Regions from separate parts of the Homo sapiens genome. Here region 2 is linked to region 1. Evidence: fine-mapped expression QTL. A gene starts in region 1. The other region holds a variant in brackets. All regions are shown on one strand. Distances are from middle to middle.

Region 1 (11,838 bases):
ACAAATGGACTTGTGCAAGAGACTTTGAGAACTCAAGAAAGCATGGCTAATTTTCAGATTTTCATTTTAATAAAACTGACCTGAAAGTAAACTCCAATGAACAATTTTTTAGGCTTTCAAGTGCTCGAAGACGCCACACTTTCTGGTCATTGGTGTTATTTTGGGTAGTGTTATCTCTAAGAATCTGTTGACAAACCCAAAGTGGGAGCATGCTAGTTTGTCCCCTGGTTTTAGAAAGTGAATTGTATCCCCTTTCACAAATATCACACATTTGTAAACCTTATACAGTGATTTGAACACATGTGTGGTTAAACCCAGAGACCTGGAGCAGCTCCTAGATTATTTGTAATTAAACACAATTCCCAGAGTAACATTTATCTTCCCAAAACTGCGATTGCAATTGTCAACCGTCTGGAGGAGACCCCGGGGTAATCTGGGAGCATTACCTCCTCTACTAACAGAACAGAATGAAAAGAAATCAATAGTGTTGAGGATAAGCATTTAGTAGTTTTTAACTCTGCATGTTAGCTGTAAGAAAGTGATATATAATACCAAAAGAGAAAATAACAGAAACAAATCCATTCTAGGAAAAAAATCAGAGACACACTCATCTGAATGTCTAAGCTTCTCTTTTGCTCTCTTGCCTTGAACGACAGTCACACACAAACACACACCATTCACACTAAATGAGCAAACTCTTTTCCCTACATGTGTTTCCTTCATTTATATGATGAAGGAGAAATACAAAGTGCTGTAGAATTAATTATCAATTTTATCCATGGGCTGGCAGAGATGAATATAAAAAGTACTGTAGAGTGCAAGCCTGAATGTAGAAGTAGCACGAGGCCACATTAACATAGCATGAAGATATGAACATTATGTGTGTTGACAATAAATAGGGAAAGGTGTTTTGTTTTCTTCCTTTAATACAGGCTGTACACAGAGATGGAGATTTTGAACATCAATTTTGGTAAATATCTTTATACTTTTCCTATCTATGAACTTACCTACTACTAAGATGATTGTTTGATACATGGGGAAAGTCCCGCTTGTCTTCTAACTATGCAATTTGAATATCCCAGCTAAAATAAATCAAAGCTGGTAATATGCTAAGTCAGATAAGTAAATCTCTTTTAATTAAAGTGTCCCTAACTTTTGAACATTTTGAAGTGGCAGAGAAGAAAAAGTAAATATTAAGGAGAATGGAAGAAAAATATCAAGTCAAGAAAAAAATAGGAAATGCTCTCTCAAGTGGTCTCATTTATTTACAGTCATCAAGGCAACGCTTTTCATCACCAAGAAGCTCCTGTGCCAGTAGATCAAGAGTCACTATTGCTTCGTTGTGGTCAACAAATGCATCCAATTAAGCACTACCAGAAAAGTAAGGACTCGGCTATAAATGTGGCCGGACAGTTTGGAACCAAATAACCTCACTAATAGAGGCTATTGTTCAGCGTGGAAGTTCCCATTTTCCAATCAGGAAAATACAGCCCTCTCTGGGCTCTGGCCGACTGATCTCTTCCCACCTACGGCTCAACAATCTGCCACCAGCGAGGGGCTTGTATTACCTCTCTTCCCAGGAAATGTTAGGTAACTTCTTAGTAAAACCACACGAAAGAGAAATGGACTGCTAAGGGGCACCCCTCAGGAATTCACAGGTCCACGCCTAGCCAGGTTTTTTTTTTTTGTTTGTTTTGGTTTTGGTTTGTTTTTTGTTTTTGTTTTTGTTTTCCAGCGGGAAGGAAACTTTGACCAGAGAGCTCTCGACGAGGAAACACCCCCACCCAACCTGGCTCAGCTCGCTGCTCCCGGCGGCCGCCGGCGGCGCTCAGCTACCCAGCGATCCCTCTTCACGCTTTATTTAGTAGCCAACACGTCCGCGTGCGAGGACCCCGCACACTAGTCAAGGGGTTGGGGGTCGTCTTCCCATTCTGGGAGAGGCGCAGGCCAGGGACGCAGTGCCAGCACTGCGTTCGCTCTGTCTCCCGCGGGCACCCGCCGGTCAGCTTCCAGAGCTGCATGTCCCTGCCAACGCTCTAGAAACCGAGATGCTAAGAGCCGGGTTTAAACGTACCCTGCAGAGGTACGCGCTACAGTTTGTGTGCATTTTTTACCATTAGGCTTTTTTCCTTTCCTTTTATTTTCTCTCTCTCTCTCTTTTTTTTTTTTTTTTTTTTTTTTTTTTTTTTTTTTTTTTGACGCTCTGTTTATAGTGGTCCACACTTAACAAGTTCAAAAACCGTATTTGGTGTAGATGAGCTGCCGGACACTTGAAAGCCTAGATAACTTTGATGTTTTCCACTATAAATCCCTAATTGTACTTAATGGTTACAAATGACTTTATTTACTTGTCGCTGTAGCTACACATTTTAATCTATTAATCAAACAGCAGAGGCATCTTTCACTTCCTACTCCCGCAAAAGGAAAAGCAGGAATTGAGGCCTCTAATTTGCTTTTAGGACCTTCTGTTTCTTTGGTTGTGAAAGCTAAGACCTCCAGATCCGAGCATTGATTAGTCTTCAAACCTGCCTGCAAAAAACCTTCCTTTCTCCGTTCCATCTAAGGAGATGTTGATGTATATTGTAGCTGCAAGGTGTTAGATATACTTGAGCAAGTTGTTCCCAGGATGTAAATTAGGTCCCAAAAGCTGTTGTCCAAATCGAAGAAACAGAGAAATTAATCTGGGAGACTATCCATCATCACCGGTAATAAAGAGAGCGACATGGATGAGACAGATGATATGATTAAGGGGCTGTGGTCGTTTTAATTAACTTTTTGCTGTCCTGTAATGATCAAACTGGTCACCAGACCCGGTCAATAAGCATGTTAATATCAAACAAATAAAACCAGGGATGATTAAAAACCTCCTAGTTTATTAAATTTGAAATTCAAATGAAATTTATGCTGCAGATGCATACAGAATGCTAATAGATTTTAGCTTTATTGATAGTGGATCCCACAGGTTTGCAAGAAACAGCAGAATATCCATCTACCCCTCTTCCTGCCAGCACATTAAACTTCATATGGGGTGGAGAAACTTTTAATTAATGTTAGAAAGCCTGTACTTCCTATTTTTCTTCCCCCTCTTTTTCAAACATCTATATTATCACAATATAATACTCAAGAGTAATAATCAATATCGTAAAAGTTAAACCGAAGTGTATGCACCCTGAAATGCTTTGCCAGGCAGGCTATATCAACAATGGATTACAGATGTTCTCTCCTATGGGACAGGATTTAAGAATGATTGGGTCACTTCTCCAAAGTGGAGAAAGAGCTGTCATTAAGTCTAGTTTCAAGCATATTTAGATGCAAAATTATGACTGCTAAAATTTTTGGTCAATTATATAATTCTCTTTGTCTTTTCTTTTTAACACAGCTGCCTTATGCCTCATGTCACAAACACTAGCCATTTCTTTTGGGGAGGGAGTGAAAGAAGGGTGGTACAAGAAAAAAATGCCCTTTGACCAATGCTACTATGAAAGAAATAGCTCACTTTTTATATGAAAGTAAGTGGAATATACATATATTTCTAATAAAAAATATATATACATATATATAATGAAGAAAGTTGCACATACACACCTTTGTGGAAATCCCCAAATGCTGCAAGCCAATCTTACACAAACTGAAGAATCCAGTATTTTCATTAAATCCACACCAACGTTGTGACTTATAGGAAGAATGACATATGATTCTAAAGTTAATTTATACACTTGAAAAATCTTAGAATTAGGTAGCTCAAAACTGCAGTCACATGACGCTGGGTTTTTCTAATTCCTGGCATTTTTGAGGAAACAGTGTTAACGCCTCTGTTTACTCTCAGTATCAGCATTTAACTTTTTAATAGTCCTGCCTCACTTCCTTCCAGAAGATAGGAGGATAAAAAGATAAAATAAATAACTATTCATAGATGGGAGCCTCCCCTCAAAGCTGTTTTTCTCCACCTTTGAGGATGATGGTATTGATTAGAATTAAACCCCAAATCTGAACAACTGTATATTAGGCCCTTAAAATGAATATCATTAAAGAAGGAGACCAAAGCAATGAAGTTAATTCTCTTTTATTTGTTAAACGGAGTACCCTCCTTCCCCCACCCCTTCCTCCTTCTGGGCTGGCCTGTCACGCCTTCTCAACACGCTAAAATCATTCAGAGCGGCTTGCAGGGAGAAACACGACATTTATGGTAAGCGTCAGCCCTCAGAGAAAGAAAGCAGTTCATTAATTTACTTCACACTTACTTCAAAGTATGAGAGTATACCTTACCCCCTTAATCAATAGATATGATGTACAGTCAATATCCCCACAGCGTTTAAAAAAGGGTCAGAAATGTACACTCTCACACCACAAACATCAGTTTCAACTCTGCTCAATGAAATTTACACGATACAACTTGACTTCGAAATTTTGTAAACCCTAGGAAGATTTTTTGACATCCCTAGAAGCTGTGAAATCCTTGAGGGGGGTTCAAACACAACAGTAAAATAAAAATGTTTTCCCAGTCAAAACAAAACAGTTCGCCCAGCTAGTCACATTTTAGTTAATTCCATTTTAAAATTAGACTTCTGAGAGCACTTGTAACTGGTTAAAAATATGAACTGTTTTTATAACTTATGAATATTCAATAGGGCTACAAAGACTGGACTTTTTGCTACACTGGTGTTGTGCTTTCTGCGGTTTAAGTTCCCTTGTGGTGGCAGTGAAATTGTAATGGCATTTCTGAAGGCAACTAATAACACAAATGGCAAGCAAATGACTAAACCCCACCGAATTTGAACTAAGTGTATCTATTAACATGCACACACACTCATAGACAGATCTCTGGCCCAATCGCCATTAGACACTGACGCCTGGATAAATGTCCAAGATTTGTCAAAAGCTCCTCTCTATTCTTAGATAAATAGAACCCATATATTTCGATCAAAGTCCTGATTCTTTTCTCAGAAAGAGGCAGTGAGGTTTTCTGTGAAAATTTCTAAATTCCGTAAAACGCTCTTCAATTTCTTACCCAAAGAAAAAACGACCCTCGCTTACTCTCTTCTCTATCTAATCCTTTTGTATTGAAATTTACTCAACACCACGGGACACACACACCTCCTCCCCTAGAGTGAGACGTGCACTTCTAAAGCAGAATTCCACCTCAGGGAAAAAAAAAAAAAAAAAAAAAAAAAAAGCCACGGCATCAAAGAAACAACTCATGGGCGCGCAGGCGCGCATCCACGTCCCAACGCATCCCTAAAAATAACCCTTAGCCTCTCAACCTTTCTACTATTTCGTTGGAGAGCCGGGAAAGAAAAGGTGGGTTTAAAGATCTTCTTCAAAAATGTAGTGACGCTGTTTACCAAGTTAAGAAAAAAAAATCACTCAAGATTTTAGGTACAAGGAGCCAAAGGAAGTTGGCGACAGGGGCAGCGTTTGTGAATATTTATTCACTCAGCCTCCATCAACTTAGTCGGTTTCTCTCTTCAGCTCGACAGTCTCTCTCTTACAAACACACACTTTATTGCATTGTTCCCATTCCCCACTACCAGCTTTGGTGCGCGCACACAACACAAGCGCCCACACACACCCTTCCCTCTTCTCTGTCGCACAAATACACATGTTCACAGCCCTCCTTCTCCCCCAACACCAAACACACTCACCCCCCACCCAGTTGAGTCCCTCTTCCCTCCCTAGGTTTGTCAGTTACACTACCGTACACTCACACCCTTCCCAACACTTAACTGCTCTGTCCCTCTACCCCGCTTTGTCGCACACGCAGTTATCTTATCACACAACCCTCCCTTTTCTGCACTCTCTCCACTCCCCGCCTTTACCACACTGTCACTGTTACGGTGTCACACCCCCATCCCCCCTCCCTCCAGTCTCCGCACTGTCCTCTCCTACGCCTGGTCACACTCGCACACAGTTACATTGTTACACACACACTCATACACGCGAGCGCGCGCTTTGCGCTTTGTAACACACGCAGCCGCCCCCGCCCCCTCCGCTCCCACTCCCCCTTCCACCACGGCGGCAGGCGGCGGCGCCGATGACCTCACGGCGCGCGCGCCGCGCGGCCCGGCGAGGCCGCAGATTGGCTGGCCGCGCCTCCGCGGCACTTCAAAGCCGGAGAGGGAGCTACAATTGTGGTGGAATGGGCGGAACTGATCATTGTATTGCACACCTCTAAAAAAAACACTGCCTCTGATTTATCAATATAAAAAAGATCCTCTGAGAGGAGGAGGGCACTTTTGTGTGATGGCAACTTCACTTCTAGGGGTGAGTCTCAGGATTTTCTCTTGCTGGTTTAATTAGTTTCCTTTTATTGCCGATTGGAGGGGGTTAAAGTCGCCCCGGCCAGGCCACGGGCTATCAGTCTCTCTATTGAGAGCTTTTTTTTTTTTTCTTTAAATACAAGTGAGTTTGGAGAAAAGAAAAAGGGGGAGAAGGGGGCAGAGTCACTTTTTTTCAGCGCAGGAAAAGGTTCGAAGGGCATTTAGACAAGCCACCGCGCAGCGCCTCGCTGCTCCCTGCCCGGGAGACCTGCGTCCAGCCCATTTTACAGGCACCGATTTCGGGGGTAAAGAGAGCAAGTTTTTCCTTCTGGGCAAAGTGCAGATTCTTCCCCTAACCCTTAAAAAAAAATTCTGCAGCCCGCCTTGTCTCGCAGGTACGTTGAACTCGTCTCGTTTTTACTACTGTAGATATGCTTTTAAAAAAAGAAAGAAAGAAAAGCAGGAAGAAAGAGTGAGCCCTACAGTTTGATTTCTTTTGGCCTGGGAGAAACAACCCAGGATGGGTTTCTGGGGACCCGAACAGGTTTTTCAAAGCTCTCCGGATTACAGGGAAGCGCTCTTAAAAGCAATCCAATGGTTTTCCCCCAGGCTTCTCGGCAAAGAAAACTTCCTTCCTCTCCAATCTGGACTTTTTGCTTGTTTGTTACGAAGTGTCTGGGGCTTTGTGTGCAAGAGAGTGTTGTTTTAGGTGAGAATACTTGTCAAACTCTTCTTTAGCGTGGTGCTTGCTCCCGAATCAGACGCCGGCAGCCAAACTTGTCCCCTCCTGTAGAGTAGGAAGCGGCCGGGCGCCGGGGCTGTTGGGGGTGCCAGGTGAGTTGGTGGCGGCGCGCCGCAGCGAGAGATGGGGTGCAGTGGGGCGCTTTGGAGGCTACCGAAGGACTGATGCACATTTCTTCCTTTCCTCCCCCACCGGCCCTTTGCCCACCTCCCCTCCCCCACTCCTTCTCCTCTCCTCCTCGCAGGAAGAACCGAGGTTGGGATCGACTCCTCTGGCCATGCTTGCCGCTACCTGTAATAAGATAGGCAGCCCCAGCCCGTCTCCCTCCTCCCTCTCGGACAGCTCTTCTTCCTTCGGCAAAGGCTTCCACCCCTGGAAACGCTCCTCGTCCTCTTCTTCCGCCAGCTGCAACGTAGTGGGTTCCAGTCTCTCAAGCTTCGGCGTGTCCGGGGCCTCCAGGAACGGCGGCTCGTCCTCGGCGGCTGCGGCGGCCGCGGCAGCAGCCGCGGCTGCCGCGGCCCTGGTGTCCGACTCGTTCAGCTGCGGCGGCTCGCCTGGCTCCAGCGCCTTCTCCCTCACCTCCAGCAGCGCCGCAGCCGCCGCCGCCGCCGCCGCAGCCGCCGCCTCCAGCTCGCCCTTCGCCAACGACTACTCTGTTTTCCAGGCCCCCGGAGTTTCCGGGGGCAGCGGCGGCGGCGGCGGGGGCGGCGGCGGCGGCTCCTCCGCGCACTCGCAGGACGGCTCCCACCAGCCGGTGTTCATCTCCAAGGTGCACACCTCTGTGGACGGGCTGCAGGGCATCTACCCGCGGGTGGGCATGGCGCACCCGTACGAGTCGTGGTTTAAGCCCTCGCACCCGGGCCTGGGTGCTGCGGGCGAGGTGGGCTCGGCCGGCGCCTCCAGCTGGTGGGACGTGGGGGCCGGCTGGATCGACGTGCAGAACCCGAACAGCGCGGCTGCGCTGCCCGGCTCGCTGCACCCTGCCGCCGGGGGGCTCCAAACCTCGCTGCACTCGCCGCTCGGAGGCTACAACTCGGATTACTCGGGCCTGAGTCACTCGGCCTTCAGCAGCGGCGCCTCCTCGCACCTGCTCAGCCCCGCCGGGCAGCACCTCATGGACGGCTTCAAGCCAGTGCTACCCGGCTCCTACCCGGACTCGGCCCCGTCGCCGCTGGCCGGCGCGGGGGGCTCCATGTTGAGCGCTGGGCCTTCGGCGCCGCTGGGGGGCTCCCCGCGCTCCTCAGCTCGCCGCTACTCCGGCCGCGCCACCTGCGACTGCCCCAACTGCCAGGAGGCAGAGCGGCTGGGCCCTGCCGGGGCGAGCTTGCGGCGCAAGGGCCTGCACAGCTGCCACATCCCGGGCTGCGGCAAGGTGTACGGCAAGACTTCGCACCTCAAGGCGCACCTGCGCTGGCACACGGGCGAGCGGCCCTTCGTGTGCAACTGGCTTTTCTGCGGCAAGCGCTTCACGCGCTCCGACGAGCTGCAGCGGCACCTGCGGACCCACACCGGCGAGAAGCGCTTCGCCTGTCCAGTTTGCAACAAGCGCTTCATGCGCAGCGACCACCTCAGCAAGCACGTGAAGACGCACAGTGGCGGCGGCGGCGGCGGCGGCTCGGCGGGCTCGGGCAGCGGCGGCAAGAAGGGCAGCGACACCGACAGCGAGCACAGCGCCGCGGGCAGCCCGCCCTGCCACTCCCCAGAGCTGCTGCAGCCCCCCGAGCCCGGGCACCGCAACGGCCTAGAGTGACGCCCACCCTGCGCCCGCCCCTCTCCCCGACCTCCTCCCACCAAGTCCTCTTGGGCCCTGTCTGTCCGGACTTCAACTCCAGCCTTTCCCTATTGCATCCGACTCGCTCTCTGTCTCTTTCTGTTTCTGCCCCTCTTCCTTCTTCCTTCTGTGACTTAACTTTGTAAAGGGGATATGGACAAGTAAGTAACACGCATCGCTGTCCCGGGCCCTGGCTTTCCCTTTCCACGGGTAACGCTGCCTGAACCCGTTGCAGCCGGAACCCGCGCCTCGTCGGGCCTTTATTTCTCGTTCTCTCTTCCTTGTCCTCCCCTCCTCCACCCCCCAGGTTGTGAAGGGCGTAACTTTTAGAGGGAACGGCCACTGGAGGTAGAGCTGGACTAATCCAGTGCCTGGTAGACAGCGGGCCTCGCGCGGGCAGGAGCGGCTCGGCTGACAAGCCTGAGCGGAGCGGTGGAGAGGGAGAGGCTGGAGGCCTGGGCAGAACAGCGCCGCCCGGGCAGACGGCTGCTTGGTTCCAGAGCCGCTGTACTGAGCACCTCGGCTTCGGAGCACCCTGCCAGGCCCCTGGGCATCGCCGGACGTCCTACTCAGGCTGTCGGGGCTTGGTGGGGGTGACTTTTGGCAGCCCGAGACCCAGAGTTTGTAGAGTTTAGATCTCCCAATGTCAGTCTGCCTCTTTTTCTTTGTTCCCTGAGGTGGAACCGATGCAAGTTTCAGCAAAGGGCAGTCTTGTCGAATCGCTGCAGCAGCTTTCTTTCATCTTTATAGCATATATTTTATTTTTAAAAAAACTAGGGGGAAAATAGCAACCTTCCATTTGGTTTCCCTTCTATAATAGTTTTTTCCTCTAACGGGGAGCAATCTTTCTCTCGAAACTGCTAATATTGATCCCAAAGTTACTTTGACTGCATTAACTTAACTTACGGGGTGGGGGCGGGGGTGAGGGTAGGTGCTTTTTTCTTATGCAAAAATACTCCTTTCCGGTGAGACCAGATTAACTATCTCCATGTTTGTCCTTTTCTACCTCGTTTTTTCACCACTCCCAAACATAACCTCCCAATCTTTTTTGTTAGTCCGGCCGTCAATTGTATAGTACCAATTTCGTAAATTCTCTCAATTCATGAAGATCGTAGGGTTAAACTTTTTTGTGTGTGATTTAAACTTACAAACAAGTGAAGAAGCTATCGTTTATTTCAGACGAGGCTGTAGTTTAAATACCAAAAGAGGGAAAATAAAAAAGAACCTTTGTAAAATATATCTGAACCTAATGGTTTGTACAACTGGAGAATCGTTCTAGATTAGTTACCAATTAAATATAACTCCGCCAGTGTAAGGGTGTGAGGTGCAGTTGTCCAGGAGACGATTTTGTATAGTATTTTTCTTGTACATTACTTCCAGTAAATATTTGAAAATATATTGAAGTAAACTTGATTTTTTTTTTTTGTCACAAGAAAATATTAAGAGTTATTGTTGCAGTTCTGATGAGCTGCAGGTTTTTTGAACTCACTTCTGGAGGTGCAGAGCCACAAACGCACTTTCGGGGCCTAGTTTTGCTCGAATATGAATTTAGATAGGTATCAAGCTGTAACTAAGACAATATTTGATAAATGTTGGATGACATTTAATTTAATGGAGCATGTACTTATTTGCATTTGCTGGCAGTTCAGGCATAGTTAAAGTGAGAGTTCTCCTATATTTCATAATAAGTGGTCTGCCAAAACCCATGTATTAAATAAATTGTCCAAGTGAAACTCGACTAACTTTGGCCTTTGTGTATTTCCTGAAGGTAATATTGTTAACTGTTAATAAATACTTCTGACACTACATTTAAATGTTTGCAGATTCTGCAAACTAATTGCTCATTGTAATGTTGAAATAATTTGGATATTTCACATTGAAATGAAAAGCCTTTCTCTGGAGCATTTTAGATTTGCATTTTAAATGCATGAAATGTAATTGATTTATTTGTAATATTTTAAATGGTATAATAAACTCAGATAAAAGACTAGGCCAGTTAATTTGTATTTTTTCCCCTTTTTAAACTATGGACGTGCATTTTATCTTCAGTTAATTGTCTAATTTAAACAAAATATATCCTTGTTTGTGGTAATATTTAAATAATTACCTTTAAGATGTTAGATGGAAAGATCTATTTGGCAAAGCTGTGTTTTCTCTGTTTACCAAGATAAAGATTATAGTGTCTAAGGAATGTAATTGATTATTTACCAGTAGATTTAGCTCATAGCATCAGGATTTACTGACCTCTTAAAATTTGTACTAAGTCACAATTCAAAGAAATTTCACCATTCTCTTTCCTTCTCAGTCTCCAGAAGGAGTCAGGTTGTTGGCCATTGATTGCATTAGTATTTAAAAGGCCAAGCCTTACATTGGAAGATCAATACATCTAAAATAAAAACATGGGTTTGGGGATAACTTTTGTTGTTAGGAGGTGGAGGAGGTCAAGCTAACAAAAGCTTGTTTTTGGCATTCCAAGTCTTAGCTAAAGATTATGTAGAGGTAAATATCAGTAGTAGATTCCTGTTGAAATGAGTTATCTGTTCTTTTAAAGTCTCTAAACAGCCACCAAAGAAAAGGAAGGTTAAACCTTAATCTATTTACTAGGCTATTGTTCATAGGTGTCAATGATGCCAATAAAAAATACTGTCTTGTTATGTCTAAGTGCATTTAGCAATGGGTGTTCCTGAGCCATACTTTGAAACATAAAATACTCTAAATGTTGATTGATGTTATATCACTATTTCACTATTAGATTAATATTATTATTTTGAATCAAATTGAATAAAAAGTTAGTGTGTTTGGATTCTTACAAGTTTAGCTTCTTTATTTCTGTTTGCAATCTCCCCACCCTAAGTATAGTCTTGGTATACATCTTGAACTGAAAAATTTTCCATTGAAATCTATATATGGTAATTATAATGCATAGAAGCAAGTGAAAATACAAAGTGCTATGAGCACTGTAAATTGAGAGGAAAAAGCAATTAGGGATAAAAGATGTTTTAGAATAATATAGCTCGTGTCCAAGTAGGTGACACCTTTAATCCTGCTGTCTATGCAGGTATTTGAGG
Region 2 (11,838 bases), 580 kb before region 1:
TGTGAACACTGATCTTAAGTATATTTTCATTGATAAATACACTAGGCAAATGAATGTGCAATGACATTAGTACATAATTCCTGAAGCCTATTCCACTGGACATTTGATCTGCATATAACAGAAGTTAATGAAGGTTCTATGGTCAAATAAATTTGTATACTTTTGGGTTAAATAAACTTAAATAGGTTTTTATTTGTTTTGTTTTTGTTTTTTAATAACCAGACTACTCAGACTTTAATATGCTAATATACATTGTAAATCTCATTGAATAGACTAATTTTCTTAAAAATCTTTTCTAATTAGAATTATTATTCCATAAGACTATACTTTTCAGTGTTATCAAAATTTATTTCATTGCCAAACACTTTGAGAAATTCTGTATATTTTCAAATACAAAAAAATTAATGGATGCCCCCTAAGTGCTAGGCTACATATTATATCCTGCAGATTCTTTTGAGTAAAATAGGCATGGTGTTTGCCCTCATGGAACAAACACATATTTTAAAATAGATTTTTTTTCAAGAAAGCTAAATAATAATTACGCAAAAGATTTCTAGATTCATTGCCATAGAAGTGAATACAAAACATTTAAGTATATGTATAAAATGAAATATGATAAAACTTAATCGAAGAACAGCTTGCATAAAATATAAGTATGAAAAGCTTAACATAATACATAAAGAATTAATTTGAATTCACAAGACAAACATCAAGTCCCAGTAGTAAATGAGCAAAGGGTATAAACAAAAAAACCCACATAAGTAAAAATTTAAATAGCAAAAGAAGTTATTAAAAAAAATCTATTGTTCCTAGTAATCAAAGCAACATTTTAGTAGCATCTATTTAACCTCTATAAATTTGCTTATACTATAAAACATTCAAACAAAACAAGTAAGTACAAAATTGACACAGTTGTGATCAAACAAGCTTTTTGGAAAGCATTCAAAGCAATACCTATGAACAGCCAAACTAAATGCATCTGCTCACTGAGTAATATTACTACTAGGAATTTTTGTAAAAAAAAAATTCAACAGAACAATAAAACTATGTTTATGGACAAATACATGTTCACTGTAATTTTATCTATAGTATTAAAAATTGGAAACAATGTCAATTATAATAGGCAATGGCAAATTAAATATTGTTATGCTAATTTCATTGATTATTATTTTTATTGTGCATCTAACCTAGACAGCTTAGATTTTCTGAAAAAATAAAAAAATTAGCTTAATTAGGTGCACTGCAGTGGGTTTACAAAAATCCTATACTTATTAAGAGTAATACTTTATGTTTATGTGTAAAAGATTGTTAATTAGATGATTAATTTGAGTGAGCTACGGCAGGCCTTGGAGGTTGATAGCCAGATGAACTAGCTGTCTTCAAACCGTGACCTATATATAGGTGTGATAAATGAACATGAAAACAATGTTTTCCTGTGCTGGTGGAAAAGAATTTATAAACATTTTGCATATATTTGCATAATCTACATGTAATCAATTACATTGCTAATATACAGTTGTTCCCTCTTATCCATGGGGGATATACTCCAAGACTCCCAGTGGGCCCCTGAAACTGAGGATAGTACTAAACTGTATATATAGTGTGTTTTTTCTTATATATACATGCCTATAATGAAGTTTAGTTTATAAATTAGGCACAGTAAGAGATTAACAATAACTAATAATAAAATAGAACTATTATAAGAATATACTGTAAAAAAAGTTCTGCAAATGTGGTCTTATTTTTTTCTTTCTCTCTCAAAATATCTTATTATATGTAATATTTTCAGACGGTGGTTGACCAAAGGAACTGTGGAAAGTGAAACTATGAATAAGGAGGAGACTATTGTAAGGATTAGCAAGTAGTGGTCAAGAAGATAGATAATGAATAAAATATAAAAATGTTCTATCACCATGAAACGGGTACATAATTCAATTAACTGTAATTGAAGGTAATTAGCTGGATTCCATGTGGTGGGTGCAGAATTCCATGTATCTAAATCAGACAATAAAAAGTTGAAAATAAAATTTGCATAAAGGTGAAATTTACCCAAGGAAATTTACCGAAGGAATATATTTTAAGGACTGTAAAGCTGCATGGCAGCTAAAAGCATGCCTTTGAGTTTCCCTGTTGATATGGTAAGTGTTACCGGCTTGGAAAAGGATCACAGTTCTGATCCCACATTCCAGTTCCCCAAATCAGACAGTTTACCTAGATCTGTAGCAGGGTATTCATTTTGAATCTTTATCTGGAGAAACCGGCACTGCTGGAAATAGTAATATTCACTCTTTAGTCAGATGAATAAGGGAGGAGACCACCCCTCATACTGTCTTATGCCCAATTTCTGCCACCAAAGAAAGAAGTAAAAACTAAAACGCAGAAATGAAATCCATAGGCAGACAGCCCGGTGCCACGCCCTGGGCCTGGTAGTTAAAGATCGACCCCTGACCTAACTGGTTATGTTATCTGTAGATTCCAGACATTGTGTGGAAAAGCATTGTAAAAATCCCTGTCCTGTTCTATTTCGTTCTGATTACTGGTGCATGCAGCCACCAGTCACATACCCACTGCTTGCTCAATTGATCACAACCCTCTCACACGGACCCCCTTAGCGTTGTGAGCCCTTAAAAGGGACAGGAATTGCTCACTTGGAGAGCTTGGCTCTTGAGACAGGAGTCTTGCCAATGCTCCTGGCTGAATAAACCCCTTCCTTCTTTAACTTGGTGTCTGAGGAGTTTTGTCTGAGGCTTGTCCTACTACAAAATGACTTTGCAAACCCATTAAGTTGTAGAAGTTATATAGAGATAGTAACATAATATATAGAAAGTATTAATACTGTGATAGTTTATGTGAAATATATTTTAAGTCATAATGATAATTTATGTTTCTTATATGTAGCATACGAAATGTTCAAGAGATGACATGTTAGAGAATCTCTGACATGTTAGGGAATTTAATTGTATTGTATTTTTAATTAGAAATGCCTGATTATACTTGTGATTTAAATTTGACATGCATTAGGGAATGTAATCAATTAAGTTTACAAACAGTGCTTGAATGCTTACTAAAGTTGTACATTCAGTTTGTTTTATTTTAAAAAGCTGCTTAAGAATTTATAAAGACTGTTTTAGTCTGTAAGTTGGCCTTATCAGAAATGAGGTGTTTGAAAAAATAAAAAATATTAAAGTTATATATGTAGGTTAAAAATCTAATACATTAAACTTACTAAACTATTAGTTAAAAAATAAAGAGTAATTAAAAGCGATTTGCTTATTCTTAATAAAAATTATTTAATTTCTAAATCTGCTAGTAAGAGTTATATGTTGAATTTAGGGGTTTAAGAAAAATTTAGTCCTTTAATTAACCACAATAACAAATTTCACATTTAGACAGCTCTAAGTGGTTCATTTTGCATTTAAAAGCCCTCCCTTGGACATTAAAAATTCACCGACATGTTAAGCCCAATGTTAATTATCAATTGAACATGACAACATGACAAATTCATGTCACTCTGAAAATCCATTTCATTATTCCATTTGCATTTGACTACTTAGTGACATTCCTTGCATTTTAAATAAATATTTAATAAAAGTATCATATTTAATATAGAAAATTTGTAAGTAAAAAATGTGTAAGAAAGAAACATTGCCAGTAATCCGCCAAAAGATGGCCACTACTAATATTTTAGTATATTAGTTTTTTATATATACGTTAAGCACAAATTAAATTAGTAACCTACTGTATATTCTTTATACATGGTTTTTTATATGTTGGCTTTTACATTTTAACTTTTTTACCATGGCAATGTGTACAGATTTTACATTGCAAGGAGAGAGAACCGGGGGGCTTGAGTGACTTTTGCCACAGTGTAATGAAGGAAGTGTTGGATTTGGTATTAGACAGAAAAGAGGTTAAATTTGGTTTCAATGTTTACTAGCAGGGAGGACCTCGGACAAGCTTCTTAACATACTCTAGCCTCAATTTCCATACCTGTGAAGTGATAATGATAATTACTACTTAATTTGTTTGTTGGGGGAAATGAGGTATCTCTATCTAAAGCAGATAGGGCAGTATCTGATATTAATAGTTACTTTTATGCTAAGAATTGTAGAGGTTGGTTTCAGTAGAAACTTTCGGTTCAGTCTGTGATCTGAAGTGCTTTTGAGGTGAAGGAATCTCAGACCCATGGAAGGATTCTTTGTTCTCTGAATTCCACACATGACTAGTTAGAGCTGTTCAATGTGATTGGCAAGCAGAGTTAAGAGTTTGCTGTAATAGCTGCACTGGAAGTGTGCAGACAAATCATGGTAAGAAATTCAAAATCGAGAAACCAGCCAAAGAAAAAAATGCTCAGCACATACATTTAAATAAAAGTATTTGTTCTAATTGCTTTTATGTATAGTCAGAGACAAATCATTTAAAATGACAAAAATGTTTTTTTTGGAAAGCTCAGCAGGCATTCAGGGCCC[C/T]GGAGAGTCATCGTTATGAAGGGAAAATACTAACAGGGTGGACTTCAATTTTCAATAAGAAAATTGGAGGCTTTATTTGTGTGAGTCCAATTAGTGCAGCTAGTTAAATTTTTCAAATTGCAGAATTATAAGACAGTTTTAGAAAAGAAATGTTTTATGTAATTCTAACAACTATGCATATCCCCTTGTGGTTGGAAATAATCCTTTTTGTGAATGATTCTTCTCAGAAGAGAGGCATTCACTTTATGTACACGACATCTTGTCTTTGGTCTTTTTTTTTTTTTTAATGAGCCTCACAAAAAGACCCCCTAGAAATGATCAGGAGATGCCAACTTATTCTCCACATAAACATTCTGATTTCTAAGAGTTAACAGCCACCGCCTTTGTGTTTACCTGAGGCTATACTCATTGCCAAACTTCCCTGACAAGCTTTTTGCCCTTACTTATTGTTGTGCTGATATCCGGTGTCAGAGCGTTGTAGATTGTGCTGGAAACACTATGTAATTACATGGGCTTTCTGATCTCAAAGTTACCTCACCTATTTCATCACTATACTTTTCTAACAAGGGAACGGAAACCCAAGATATAAGACATCAGTGGGAAATTGGCACCATGGATATTGGAGAGCCAGTGGCACTATATTAAACTTCAAAATGAAAGAAGGAGCCTGATGGCAAATTCACTTGCTTCCACTTTTGAAGGTCAACGAGTCACATCCCGAAAACTAGAGTGATTCTTCAAGTGATCTGTAAATACTTCACGTGTTTAGAAATGAGTGTTGTAACCTAATCATTTTGGTGATTATAAATTCTCAGACACCTGCTGTCTGTCTTCCCCCTCACACCTGAGGACCTGCACAATGTAGAGAGACTACAATAGATATATGGCTAAAGTAGACAACGTGCTACTTCTGCATTTTCGTATTAGTAAACATTTTAACACATTTTTTCATATATGCAAATTAAAATTATTTAAATAAAATGCGGTTTCAAATACAAATCTATCTTTTTATTTGAAAACAATATTTGCCCTTACAAAGTCCAATAAGTTGTTTTCAACCAATTCGTGTTTTATTGATAGAAGAGTCAAGTGTTAAAAGAAAAAAAGTGAGAATGGCATTAAAAATTTAAAACAATCTATTTTTGTTATATCAAATAAAATTGTTGAGGCTCTTTGATGTCTGCATTTTTGAAATTTCTAAAATCAATGTCTTTTGCACTTTGCCATGCAAAGACTCATTAGAAAAATTAGAGAAAAAATAAAAACACGAAGAATTATTGAAGTGTGCAAGTCATATGATTTTAGTCTTTTAAGCAGGTATTGAAGGTGCTTTAAAAATGTTGGATGATTAGTAAATAATACTAATAATAGATTTTTTTTTCCCTTTAGGTAAAAATCCTTTTGGAAGCCCAGGCGTGGTGACTCACGCCTGTAATCCTAGCACTTTGTGAGGCCGAGGCGGGTGGATCACCTGAGGTTAGGAGTTCGAGATGGTGAAACCTCATCTCTATTAAAAATATAAAAATTAGCCGGGCATGGTGGCGGGTGTTTGTAATCCCAGTTACTCGGGAGGCTAAGGCAGGAGAATTGCTTGAATCCAGAAGGCAGAGGTTGCAGTGAGCTGAGATTGCGCTGTTGCACTCCAGCCTGTGTGACAAGAGCAAAACTCCATCTCAAAAAAAAAAAAAAAATCCTTTAGAAATTAATAGCTTTGTTAGAGCTTTGTTTTCTCAGATTAATAAAAATAATTTTCATTTCATTAAAGATACAGAATTTATTACCACTGTGGTTTCAGCTCCATCAAAGGTAGCTTACGTTGGCCAACTCTTTGGTCATCAATTTTGGTGCACTAGATTCAAGTTAATAGTAAAGAAGGAATTCTATTTTTTTTTTAATTTAAAAGACAGGGTTTCACTCTCACCCAGGCAACACAGTGGTGCAATAATAGCTCACTGTAACCTTTAACTCATAAGGTTGAGCTTAAAGGAACCTCTGGCCTCAGCCTCGCAAGTAGCTAGGACTATAGGCATGCACCACTGCAGCCAGCTAATTTTTTTTTTCTTTTTTTTTTTTTTGAGACAAGGTCTGGCTCTGTCACCCAGGCTGGAGTGCAGTGGTACAATCCTGGCTCACTGCAGCCTCGACCTCCTGGGCTCAAGCCTCCCACCTTAGCCCCCCGAGGAGCTGGGACTAAAAGTGTGTGCCACCACACCTGGCTAATATTTTTTTTGGTAGAGATGAGGTTTCGCCATGTTGCCTAGTCTGGTTTTGTACTCCTGGGCTCCAGTGATCCTCCCACCTTGGCCTCCCAAACTGTTGGGATTACAGGAACAAGCCACTGCACCTGGTCAAAAATTTTTGATGTTTTGTAGAGATGAGGTCTTGCTATGTTGCCCAGGCTGCTCTCAAACTCCGAGCTTCAAGTGATGCTCCTGCCCAAAGTGCTGAGGTTACAGGAGTAAGCCACCACGCCCAGTCTGATTCTAATTGTTAAGAGGTTTTAATAGACTGATTTGACCCCCTTAAAGTTATCTTCCAATAATAATGTTAATAATTTGTATTTTCAAAATATTCATTTTAAAATAGGTTTCCTTTTAAAATGTGAACATTTCTGTTTGCCTGAGTTTCTATTTTGAGGAATCAGGTTTGACCTGAAAGCTTGAGCACTGGCCAGTCTTTGGAAGATGATTTATGATCAATTGACCTAATCAGTCAAAGCAGAGAGATGAGTCAAGGCTGAGGGTTCAACTTGTACAAGAGCCAAAACCTTCACATAGAGAAAAGCTCTTGACATCCATGGTTGACAGGTGCACTCTTAACACCAGCACTCTAATCTGTGCTACTGGCCATTGACAAACAAAAGTGAAGCCTTTTTAGACCCCCACCAGAAAACGTGGAAACCAGCCCATCTGTCCTGAAATGTTTTTGTATCACTATGGCCATTTTGAAAGCACAGAACGGCATACTCTTATATTTATAATTCTAGATCTGCATCTGCTGAAGCTATGAGCTCCAGAATGAACAACCTTTAGACAGAACTGTAACCCTCAATGAGTGCAGATGGTTTTCTTTTCCGCTGCACACAAAACAACATTTTGGCTGCACAGGTTAATCAAGAAATGAAATGAGGAGCAGCAATAGCAACAACAACAGCAACTACAAAGATGTATGAGGCAAAGGAAGAAGTATAGTGAGAAGGACAAGAAAGTTTACATCAGGGGTCTGCAAGCTATTGCACTTAGGCCGACTGCCTGTTTTTATAAATACGTTTTCTTTAAAAACTGTAGTTAAATATACATAACTTAAAATTTATCATTTTAACCATTTTTAAGTGTGTAGTTCAGTGGCATTAAGTACATTCATAGGGGTATGCAACCATTACCACTACTCACCTCCAGAACTTTTTGTTGTTGTTGAGATGGTGTCTCACTCTGTCGCCCAGGCTGCAGTGCAGTGGTGCAATCTCGGCTCGCCGCAACCTCTGCCTCCTGGGTTCAAACGATTCTCCAGCTTCAACTTCCTGAGCAGCTGGGATTATGGGCGTCTGCCACCATGCCTGAATAATTTTTGTATTTTTAGTAGAGACGAGGTTTCACCATGTTGGCCAGGCTGGTCTCGTAACTCCTTACCTCAGGTGATCCACCCGCCTTGGTATCCCAAAGTATTGAGATTACAGGCGTGAGCCTCCATGCCTGGCCTCAGAACTTTTTCATTATCCCAGTCAGAAACTCTGGGCCCATTAAACACTCACTCCCCATTTCCCTCTCTTTCCAGCCTCTGGCAACCACCATTCTACTTTCCATCTCTGTGAATTTGCCAAATCTAGATACCTCATATAAATGGAATGATACGATATTTGTCCTTTTGTGTCTAGCTTATTCCACTTAGCATAATGTTTTAAGATTCATCCATGTTGTAGCCTGTGTAAATAAAGTTTTATTGGAACACAGCCAGGCCCATTTGTTTACATAATGTCCATGGCGACTTTCACATTACGGTGGCAGGGTTGAGTAGTTATGATAGAGTTGTGATGACTGACAAGACCAGAGATATTTACTCACTGACCCTTTACAGAAAAAAAACTAAGTCCTTGGTTTAGATTAAAGAACCATAAAGTACCTCCTTGTTTTTTAAAAACTCCTTTATAGTGTTACTTGCCTATGGCAATTTTGGCTTATTTCTCAGCCTGATAAATAGGATTAATGAACTGTTTATCACACTGTTGTCATTAGTAAAGAGCCTCAAATGTCAAGATTTAAAATTCTTTCCGCAGGTCTGGTTACAGTGAAAGAGGGCTCATTTTCACATTTCACTGATACACATTTTACATAATGAGGACTGATCAGTGAGAGCTGATTAGTGAATCTTGGTGCAGAAAGTTCTAAAGCATGATGGACAGTTGCAGAATCTAAAAATGTCTCTTTTTCTTTGCCTTTGTCCTCTGTAATTGTGAATTTGTATGAAACAGCATAATGTGTATGCAATATTTGTAATGATAAAAAGTGTGCATTTTTGCTTGAAAGTCTAAAATATCATCTTCTACCTGAACTATTAGGTATAGTTTCTTATTTTATTGCATTGTATTAAAATTTTTTTAGGACTCTCCTAATTAGCACTACTAAATTATTTGTGGACAAGTACAAAGAAGTCTGAGAAGAACATTTTTTTTCTCTGTATTCAAAGCAACTGGGAAGGAAATGTATGTTGTAGTTGCAAAATACAGATGAAATGGCAGATAATGCTATTTCCCATGAGGTCAGGTTTCAATGATTCATCCTCTGTTAACAAAACGTAATGTGCTTGGGCAAACATTCCAGATAAGACAGCACCTGGTTTTATCATACATGATAAAAATGAAAAGGTCTGAGGGACACTTTATGGAAACCATCGAGGTAATAATAACAAAACTGTAATAGCAAACATTTCTGTGGTGTTGACTTTGTGCCAGGCACTGTTCCAAGAATTTTGCGTATATTAACTCATTTGATCCTTATGGCAAGTTTATGAAATAGGAACTTTTATTATCTCTCTTTACAAAAGAGGTATTTGAGGTATAGAAATGAATAGCTCTATTTTCACTGTTAGGTTGGGAGTGGGGGATGGATGTTGACCAACTGCGGCAATTATTGTGTTTCAGTGGTCACTTTCTCTATTCAGACACCCAGAAGACACAGTTCATCTAGCGAGGAGCACTCTGACTTCAGTGAGGGGTTGGTGCCCTTCTCTCATCCTCAGGCTCCCTATTCCTGTGTCAGTGCCTCAACGGTTGTCTCCATTCACTTTAAAATGTGTCTTCATGACAAAGACTCTGATTCCTACCTTTGCCTCAACTTTTGCCATTTTTTCTTCTCTTCCACCCACTTGCATGTACTTCAATGTAGTCCTATCAAACAACTTGGAATTCTTGAAATGTCTTTCCTGCATGAGTTCAAATCCACCTTTTCCTAGTTATGCTGTGCAACCTTGAACAAATTACTCAACTTTTTTTTTACTTTTAAAAACTGTGATAAAATACACATAACAAAAAACAAGATTGTACATCCATCACCACTATCTAGTTCCAGAATATTTTCACCACTGCAAAAGGAAACCCTGTACCTATTAAGCAACCACTTTCTATTCCTTGTCCCTCCAGTTCCTGGCAACCAATAATCTGGATTTTTGTTGTTGTTGTTGTTGTTTTTCTGGATACAGGGTCTTGCTCTGTTGCCCAGGCTGGAGTGCAGTGGTGCAATCACGGCTGACTGCAGACTTGAACTCCTAGACCCAAGGAATCCTCCTACCTCAGCTGGGATTACAGGTGCATGTCACCACACCTGGCTAATTTTCTTTAAAAAATTTCATTTGTGGGGATGGGGTCTTGCTATGTTGACCAGGCTGGTTTTGAACTCCTGGCCTTAAGCCTCCCAAAGTGCTGGAATTATAAGCATAAGCCATTGTGTCTGGCCCAGTATGTTTTCTGTCTTTATAGATTTCACAGCTTTGAATATTTCATATATATGGCATCATACCATATGTGGTCTTTTGTGTCTGGTTTCTTTCACTTAGTATAATTTCTTTTTCACTACAAAACGGCAACCACAGAGCATAATGTTTTTAAGATTCATCCATGTCATAGCATGTATCAGTACTTAGTTCTTTTTCACAACTGAATAAAATTCCACTGTATGGACATACCACATTTTGATCATCCATTCATCAGCTGATAGGCATTTGAGTTGTTTCCAGCTTTTGGCTGTTATGGATAGTGTTGCTATTAATATTCCATGCAAGTTTTTGTTTGAACACTTGTTTTCAGTTCTTTTGGGTATATACTCAAGATGAGAATTACTGAGTCATATGGTAATTCTATGTTTAACTTATTGAGTAACCGCCAAACTATTTCTCACAGTGGCTGCAGCATTTAACACTCCCAGCAAAAATGTACAAGTGTTCCAATTTCTCCACATCTTTGCCAACACTTGCTATATTCTATTTTTTAAAATTATAACCATCTGAGTGGATGTAAAGTGGTAGCTCATTATGGTTCCTCAATATTTTTAAGCCTTTGAATCTACATTTGCAATGATGATGCAAATAGCACTTAATTCATACAATTGTATGAGGAATAAATGCAATCATATATGTTGGGGGCTTGGGCTAGTGCTCTGTAAATGTAAGGTCTCTTATTATTCTTTTTTACCATTGCTGCTGGGCCTATGTTATCTCTCCTGGAAAAGACAGTACTCTGGGGTCAGATGTTTGGGCTCGAAATCTGATTCTACATTTGCCAGCTGCATGGCCTCAAGCAAGTTATTTAATTTCTGTGTGCGGCAGTATCCTTGTCTATAATGTGTTCTAGCAGTACCTATATTGCCTGGTTGTTTTGAAGACTATGAGTTACTGTATGTAAAGAACAGTACCTGGCTCATAGGAGACACTTTAAGTGTTAACTATTATTACTTCCTCCTTCTATTTCCCAGGATAATTCCTGCTCAATCTCCAGATTGCAGCTTTGATCTCTTTCCTGAGGAAGCTTCCTTTGTCAAACCCCCTAACCTCTATACCCAGCCCCCTGCAAGGTTAAGTTGGCTGTCCCTCCTATTTACTTACTGAGTCACTTAGATTGCTGTCTGTCTCTTGTCTTTTTGCACCTTTGTTTGCTCACTATCTAGCAAACTACCTGGCCTATAGTACTCTCAATTATTATTAGTTAAATAAATAAATGGGGCCAGGTGCTGTGGCTCACGCCTGTAATCCCAGCACTTTGGGAGGCCGAGGCGTGCGGATCACGAGGTCAGGAGATCGAGACCATCCTGGCTAACACGGTGAAACCCGTTTCTACTAACGATGCAAAAAAATTAGCTGGGTGTGGTGGCGGGCACCTGTA

Alleles and levels. Alleles are on the strand shown, and positions count from the first base shown. SD is a standard deviation of normalised expression in the study named.
With allele C in place of T in region 2, the expression in unexposed skin of the gene that starts at base 6,153 in region 1 is lower (moderate effect, 0.45 SD a copy in GTEx).

What was found. PIP is the estimated chance that this variant, and not a neighbour inherited with it, causes the effect. A credible set is the group of variants that fine-mapping cannot tell apart.
Region 2: its variant is the best candidate, but not a certain one, in a credible set for the expression of SP8 in unexposed skin (GTEx, PIP 0.89).

What each region holds. Positions count from the first base shown.
Region 1 is chr7:20,781,201-20,793,038 of GRCh38, reverse strand. It overlaps SP8 (Sp8 transcription factor), which reads left to right and starts at 6,153. Exons shown (of 2, transcript NM_182700.6): 1 at 6,153-6,261; 2 at 7,244-10,760. The coding sequence starts at 6,241. The coding sequence ends at 8,749. RefSeq lists enhancers at 1-30, 9,115-9,775.
Region 2 is chr7:21,363,873-21,375,710 of GRCh38, reverse strand. No RefSeq gene overlaps it. Among named protein-coding and RNA genes, the nearest start is that of SP4, 58 kb to the left of the region's middle. RefSeq lists a silencer at 7,113-7,313 and an enhancer at 10,372-10,461. The variant C/T (reference allele first, on the strand shown) is at 4,470.